Homo sapiens: one gene and its partner. The protein of the gene in region 2 interacts with the protein of the main gene of each other region in a biochemical or structural test. Each region holds a gene or a part of one and is shown on either strand. Other genes may lie near its edges.

Region 1 (3,818 bases), on a different chromosome or scaffold from region 2:
GGATTAATTTCGGTGTTCTCTATTATGTATTATTGGTGTATGTATCTGCTTTTATGCCAATATCATGCTGTTTTGGTTACTACAGCTTTGTAGTTTTGAAATCTTTAAATTTTTGAAATTTTGAAATTTTCTAGTTTTGAAATTTTGAAATCTTGTAGTGTGATACCTCCAGCTTTGTTCTTTTTTGCTTGGGATTGCTTTGACCATTCAGGCTATTTTTAGTTCCATATGAATTTTAAGATTGTTTCCTCTAATTCTGTGAAGAATTACATTGATATTTTGATAGAGCCAGGTTTGAATCTGTAGATTTCTTTGGGTAGTATAATCATTTTAGCAATATTAATTCATCTGATGAGTAAGGAATGTCTTTCCATTTGTTTGTATCCTCTTCAGTTTATTTCCTCAGTGTTTTGTAGTTTTTCTTATTAAGGCTTGTCACCTCCTTGGTTAAATTTATTCCTAGGTATACTTCATTCTCTTATAGCTATTGTAAATGTGATTGCCTTCCTGATTTATTTTCAGCTAATTCATTGTGTGTAGAAATGCTACTGATTTTTGTATATTGATTTTGCATCCTGCAAATTTACTAAATTCATTTATCAGTTCTGAGAGTTTTATTGTTAGAGTCTTTAGGTTTTTGTTTTGTTTTGTTTTGTTTTGTTTTGTTTTTGAGATGGAATTTCACCATGTTGGCCAAGCTGGTCTTGATCTCCTGGCCTCAAGCAATCTGCCCACTTTGGCCTCCTAAAGTGCTGGAATTACAGGCATGAGCCACCACGCCTGGCCAAGTCTTTAGGTTTTTGTATGTTATTTGCAGAGACAATTTGACTTCCGCCTTTCCAGTTTGGATGGTTTTTATTTCTTTCTCTTGCCTAATTGCTCTGGCTAGGACTTTCAGTACTATGTAAAATAAGAGTCATAACAGTGGACATCCAGTTCCTAGAGGAAAAGATTTCAGCTTTTCTCCATTCAGTATGATGTTAGCCATGGGTTTGTCATATATGGCCTTTTTTGTGTTGAGGTACTTTCCTTCTATACCTAATTTATTGAGAGTTTCTATCATGAAACAATATTGAATTTTAACACATGCTTTTTATTCTGCAACTATTTAGGTGATCATACGGTTTATGTCCTTCATTCTGTTGACATATGTATAACATTTATTGATTTGCATATGTTGAATCATTCTTGCCTTTCTGGGATTAATCCCACTTTATCATGGTATGTTATCTTTTTGATGTATTGTTGGATTTGATTTGCTACTATTTTGTTGAATATTTTTGCATCTATGTTCATCAGGGATATTGGCCTCTAGTTTTCTTTTTTTATTGTCTCCTTTCTGATTTTGGTGTCATGGTTATGCTGGCCTTGTAGAATGAGTTAGGAAGAGTTGCCTCCACTTCAATTTTTTGGAATAGTTTGAGAAGAGTTGGCATAATTTTTTTTTCTTTAAAGGTTCAGTAAAGTTCAGCACTGAAGCCATCCAGCCCTGGAATTTTCTTTGTTGGGGGGCCTTTTATTATTCATTCAATCTCATTACTTGTTGTTTGTCTGCTGAAGTTTTCTATACCTTCTTGATTCAATCTCGGTAGATTATATGTGTCCAGGAACTTATCCATTTCTTCTAGACTTTCAAATTTGTTGGCATATTGTTCATAGTAGTGTCTAAGATCCTGTGTATTTCTGTGGTAACCATTGTGACATCTTCTTTTTTATTTATGATTTTATTAATTTTTATGTCTTCTGTCTCTTTCTTAGTTTAGCTAATGATTGTCAATTTTATTTATTTTTCCAAAAAGCGAACTTGTTCATTGATTTTTTTTTAATTTCATTTATTTCTGCTCTGATCTTTATGATTTCTTTCATTGTGCTGATTTTGGATTTGGTTTGTTCTTGCTTTCTAGTTTCTTGAAATGCACAGTTAAATGGTTTACTTGAAATTTGTCTAATTGTTTGATGTAGGCATTTATTTCTCTCAAGTTGTCTCTTAAAACTGTTTTTGCTGTGTCCCATAGGTTTTGGTATATTTTATTTCTATTTTTATTTATTTTGAGAAATTTTTAAATATCATTCTTAATTTCTTCCTTCACTATTGGTCATTTAGAATCATTTTGTTTCATTTCTGTGTATTTGTATAGTTTGCATGTTTCCCTTGGTATTGATTTTTAGTTTTATTCAATTGTAGTCAAATAAGATACTTGATACATTTTGGTTTTTAAAAATTTTTGGCACTTGTTTTGTGTTCTAACATATGGTCGATCCTTGGGAATGTTGCACATGCTGATGAAACCATGTGTATTCTGCAGCTGTCGGTTGAAATGTTCTGTAAATATCTTAGGTTCATTTGGTATATGGTGCAGTTTAAATCCAACGTTTATTTGTTAATCTTGTCTAGATGATTTGTTCAATGCTGAGAGTGGGGCGTTGAAGTCCTCAACTATTATTGTATTGGAGTCTATCTCTCCCTTTATATCTAATAATATTTGCTTTACATATCTGGGTGCTCTGGTGTTGTGTGCATATGTATTTACAGTTGTTATATTATAGTGCTGAACTGACCCCTTTATAATAATATAATGTCCTTCTTTGTCTCTTTACAGCTTTTGACTTGTAGTCCGTTTTGTCTGAGATAAGTATAGCTATTCCTGCTTCCTTTCATTTCCACTTGGGTAGAATATCTTTTTCCATCTCTTCCTTTTCAGTCTATGTGTGTCTTCTAGGTGAGATAAGTTTCTTGTAAGCAGTATATAGCTGTGTTGGTAGAAGGGCTGAGGCAGGGCTTGCTTGTCTGACATAATGTAAAAGAGTCTTGGAACATGTCCTGGGTCCAGGGTCTCAAACCCCTCGTGGCCTATGGAACACCAAGCTCTGTGCCTAAGGGTGGAAGGCTGCCCTGCCACACTGCAATCTAAGCCCAGGGCATAAAACCCCTCGTGGCTTGGAAAGAATCCAGGGCTCTGGGCATAAAACCCCTCATAGCCTCTGGAATGTGTCCAGACTTGCTGGCCCCTTGCTCCTTGCTCTCCCAGGATCATAAATTGATTGTATCTTGAGTGAAAAGAACTTGTTCTCCATTATTTCAAGTAGCAGAGCATATGCTAAACCGTCACAGCTATGCTTGATGCACCGCTACCTTTCTACCCCAAAGTCCTCACGTTCTCACTTGTCTATCCCCACTTCTGCACGTCCTCACCACCTGCTTCTTTGTTTGATTACCAATAAATAGTGTGGGCTCCCAGAGCTCGGGGCCTTCACAGCCTCCATACTAGCGTCGGCCCCCTGGACTCACTTTATGTACTATTAACTTGTCTTGTCTCATTCCTTTGACTCCGCTGGACTTCGTGGCCCCCACGGCCTAGTGTTGGATCTGATCACCCCAACAAGCTGAGTCTAGATTTTCTTTTCATTCATTCAGGCAGTCCATATATTTTAAATGGGACAATTTAATCCATTTACATACACATTATTATTAATAGGTTATTTTCATTTCATTGATTGTTTTCTGATTGTTTTATATATTCCTGGTTCCTTACTTCCCCTCTTATTGTTTCTTTTTGTGGTTGGCTGATGTTTTTTTTTTTTTTGTAGTGATAAGATTTGATTCCTTTCTCTTTCTTCTTTGTGTATGGGCTGTCAGTGAGTTTTAAGTTCACGTGTTTTTGCCTTTTCACTTCCAGATGTAAGACTCCCTTGAGCATTTCTTTTCTTTTTCTTCTCTTATTTATTTTTATTATTTTTTTTTTGAGAAAGTGTCTCACTCTGTCGCCCAGGCAGGAGTGCAGTGGCATGATCACGGCTCACTATAGTCTCGACCTCCT
Region 2 (3,818 bases):
ACCCTGACACACACACACACACACACACACACACACACACAGATTAGAGCTGAAACAGGAGTAGAAACCTATCTGTATCTCTGATGAGATCAGATCTTTCTGATGAACAGAAAGAATGTAACCCCTGTACTCACACCCTCTCTGCTGGTTACATATGTTAACACGATTTCTCAAATGAGGCTTTTGGTTGCAAATAAGAGAAAATCACTCACGCTGGCCCTGTGTTTTTCAAATTGTTTATTGTGATCAACATTTGAAAAAAGAGCCGAGACTCTCAAGAGTGCATTACCCACGGTAAGGGTGAATTTTACTTCTTGACACTTATTTCTCTTACATGTATCTATCTGTCTCAAATGAAAAATATATTTAGAAAGTTGAAAGCTATCCAAGTGAGTATAAGAAAAGAGTATCTCACCCTGAAGGCTAAGGACAGGGAGGGCCACCAGGCCTCACGAGGACCCAGGAACCACAAAGAAGGCTAGGAAGGAGCACAGGCGGTGACCATACTCTGGCTCAGTGGCTATGTGGGCTCTGGTCTCTCTCAGCTGTTCCATGCATATGAGGCCAAATGTGGCTACCCTAGAGCTTCTGAGCCCTCAACAGAGATGAACTGGACTCTCTGCAGCCCCACTCTAAATTCCTAAGAGAGAAGTTGATTGACCCAATCAGGGTCAGGAGAAGGAAGGGAGGAGGAAAGGGAGGAGAGAAGAGCCTCTTCGTCTCTTGCCTACCACTGGCCAGGCAATTGTAGCCAAGGGGGCTGGAGTGTAAATGCAAACATAGCCATCAAGGGTTGTGTATGTGTGTGTGTGTGTCTGTGTGTGTGTATGTGTGTCTCTTGGGTAGGTTAGATCTCCCAGGAGGTCCCTACTAAACAGACTTAAGCCCGCAAAATTTTAGCTCTCCAGCCTCACACACTCCACCCCTCTACCATATTGAATCTTCCCAAACCAACTATGGCTTTCCCTAACTCCGGAGCTTGGCCTGGAATGCCCTGCTTCCCCTCTTTCCCCTGGGGAACGCCTGTCCTTCAGGCCTCAGTTCACACACTGCCTCCCTTGCAAAGCTCTCCTCCCATCCCCGGAGTCCCTCTTCCCCTTTGTTCTTTGGGTTCTATGCTTCTTCCCTCATAACTCCCACCAGGTTGTGTTAAAATGAGTTGTTCAAGGTCCTGTCTGTTCCACTAGATTCTGAGCAACTTGGAGAACGAAGATCCAAACTTCGCTGCCTTTATTTCCTCCTTTGTTCTTTTCTCATCCCCAAGTCCCTTCCAACTTGGAGTTATGAAGAAAGGAAGGAAGGAAGGGTGGGAGGGAAGAACAGGAGGGGATCCCACAGGAGAATGTGTATAGGGAGAGGACTCAGACTAGCTAAAGCTTTTCCCTCATAATTAATAGCAAATACCATGTTACCTGAATTTAATTCACAGTAGCATACAAAAGACTCGCTTTGTTCTCCCCATTGATGTCATCAGAGGGCTGTGGGCAGGCCTAATCTTGGCTCAGGAGGCCCTCCAGCCTGGATCTAAAGAGCAGCAGATGGGCCAGGCTCGGTGGCTCATGCCTGTAATCCCAGCATTTTGGGAGGCCGAGGCGGGTGGATCACGAGGTCAGGAGTTTGAGACCAGCCTGGCCAAGATGGTGAAGCCTCGTCTCTACTAAAAATACAAAAATTAGCCAGGTGCGGTGGTGGGCGCCTGTATTTCCAGCTACCCGGGAGGCTGAGGAGGCTGAGGCAGGAGAATCGCTTGAACCCGGGAGGCGGAGGTTGCAGTGAGCCGAGGTCACGCCACTGCACTCTAGCCTGGGCAACAGAGCAAGACTCCGTCAAAAAAAAAATAAAAAAATAAAAAAATAAAAAAAATAAAGAGGAGCACACATCTCTGCCCATCCTAACTCCCACTTTGACATTGAGGTCCCCAGGATGGAGGGTCTGCCTCCATCTGCCTTGTCCCCTGCAATGGTGGGAAGGTGATGGAGCTCAAGTCTAGAGGCCACCAGCTTCTTAGGGAGGTAGGAGGTGGAGGGTGGGGTGCGGGCCCTGCACACAACTGCCAAGTGAGGATGGGGGTGGGGTCCACCTGAGGATAAGTAACAGTGAGGCTGGTGCAGAGGACCCAGGTGGAGGTAGACAGCAGAATTTGTGGTGGGGTGGATGGCACATTATATAAGCCTCTCTTGCTGCCCTGTTTACTGAGATTGTTTCATTATCTTTTTTGGCTTTTGTTTTTAAGAGATGGGGTCTTGCTGTGTCACACAGGCTGGAGTGCACTGTGTGATCATACCTCACTGCAGCCTCGACATCCTGGGCTCAGGCAAACCTCCCACCTTGGCCTCCCAAGTAGCTGGGACCACAAGCGTTTGCCACCACACTCAGCTATTTTTATTTTTATTTTTATTTTTTTTAGAGATGGGGTCTTGCTGTGTCGCCCAGGCTGGTCTTGAACTCCTGGGCTCAAGCGATCCTCCTGCCTTGGCCTCCCAAAGCCCTGGGATTATAGGCTGAGCCACCACACCCAGCCACATTTCATCTGTGCAGCTCCAGGGGCTCCACATTCTACTCTTCTCATTTCTTCTCCAGGGTACCCATGGCAAGGGATGAGGGTAGAAGATGGGGCAGCCAGGCCTTGATTAAAGGAGAAGGAAGGCAGCCTGTGGAGAGGGCAGCCCAGGGAGTGCAGAGAGAAGTGGGCCATGAGGGAGACAGCAGAGTGCAGGCTGCGTCCCAAATGAGCATACAGCCCACTGTGAGCCCACCATCTTCCTAGAGACCCCTCTCCTCTCCAGGAGCTGCTTCAGTAGCACTCAGAGGAAAGAATGATGCTGTATCAACATTTCAGCAGCTCATCTTTTAACTCTAAGAAAATGGCAGCTCCTAAATGTTCAAAACTGCTTTGGAAACTTCTGGAGAGAGGTTTTGCAGCTCAGGCAGACAGCTGATCGCGGCCTTTCTTCCACCCCAACCCATGCTCTCCCCATGCTCTCCTGCCACAGCTGCAGCGGGCCCCTGGGTCCTACATTTGCAGCCCTTTGTCTCTGAGCTCAGACTTCCAATTCCAAGCGGCAGCTGGGCAGGCTCACCAGCATGTCCAGCCAGTACTAGGACATCAGCAGGAGCCCAACCACCTCTTTCCAAAATCTCTCCTCATGTCTCTCCTAGTTTCCATCTCCATCCTTCTAGTCAGCCAGGCTGAAAACATTTGCTCCTCAGGGTGCAGAAGGGAAAGCTTTGCCTCCCTTCCTGGTGCTCACTGCCCCTGCGATTCCAGCCCAAGCCCTCCCCGGCTCCTCACCCTGGTGTCAGCTGGAAGCCACCATCTCCTAAACCCACCTGTGTTCTTCCACCTCTGCCAGGGCTGCCCTCTCCTCCACCTTCACAAACTCAATTCCTACCCATTCTCAGGTCCCTTATCAAATGCCATCTCCTCCATGATGCCTCCCTGATTCCCCTGCTGGAAATAATGGTGATAACAGCTAAGGCATTGGGGTTGGCTACGTGCCAGGCAAGGAGTTGGCACTTTACATGCTTTATCTCATTTCAGCCACATAACATCGACAGGTGGCATTATGATTCATATCATCCCCATCTGATAGCCAGGAAAACTGAGTCCCAGAGAGGTTAGCCACTTTCCTAGGGCCCTGTGCTCTGACTCAAGCATAGCTCTGAGGAACTCTAGCATTCATCAGTTTAAGCACCATGACTTTCTTTGCTGAGTCACCCAAGGCATTTCTTCATTTAAATGTTCTTCCTTGGCCAGGCGCAGTGGCTCAGGCCCAATGCGGTGGCTCACGCCTGTAATCTCAACACTTTGGGAGGCC

The links.
Region 1: the proteins of LEP (region 2) and CD33 interact in a biophysical measurement, tested with the Homo sapiens proteins (one study listed by IntAct).

Annotation. Positions count from the first base shown.
Region 1 is NC_000019.10:51,228,034-51,231,851, forward strand, and holds part of CD33 (myeloid cell surface antigen CD33 isoform 1 precursor), read left to right. Parts: intron 1-3,818. UniProt on the Homo sapiens protein: Sialic-acid-binding immunoglobulin-like lectin (Siglec) that plays a role in mediating cell-cell interactions and in maintaining immune cells in a resting state.
Region 2 is NC_000007.14:128,244,241-128,248,058, forward strand, and holds part of LEP (leptin precursor), read left to right. Parts: intron 1-3,818. UniProt on the Homo sapiens protein: Key player in the regulation of energy balance and body weight control. Once released into the circulation, has central and peripheral effects by binding LEPR, found in many tissues, which results in the activation of several major signaling pathways.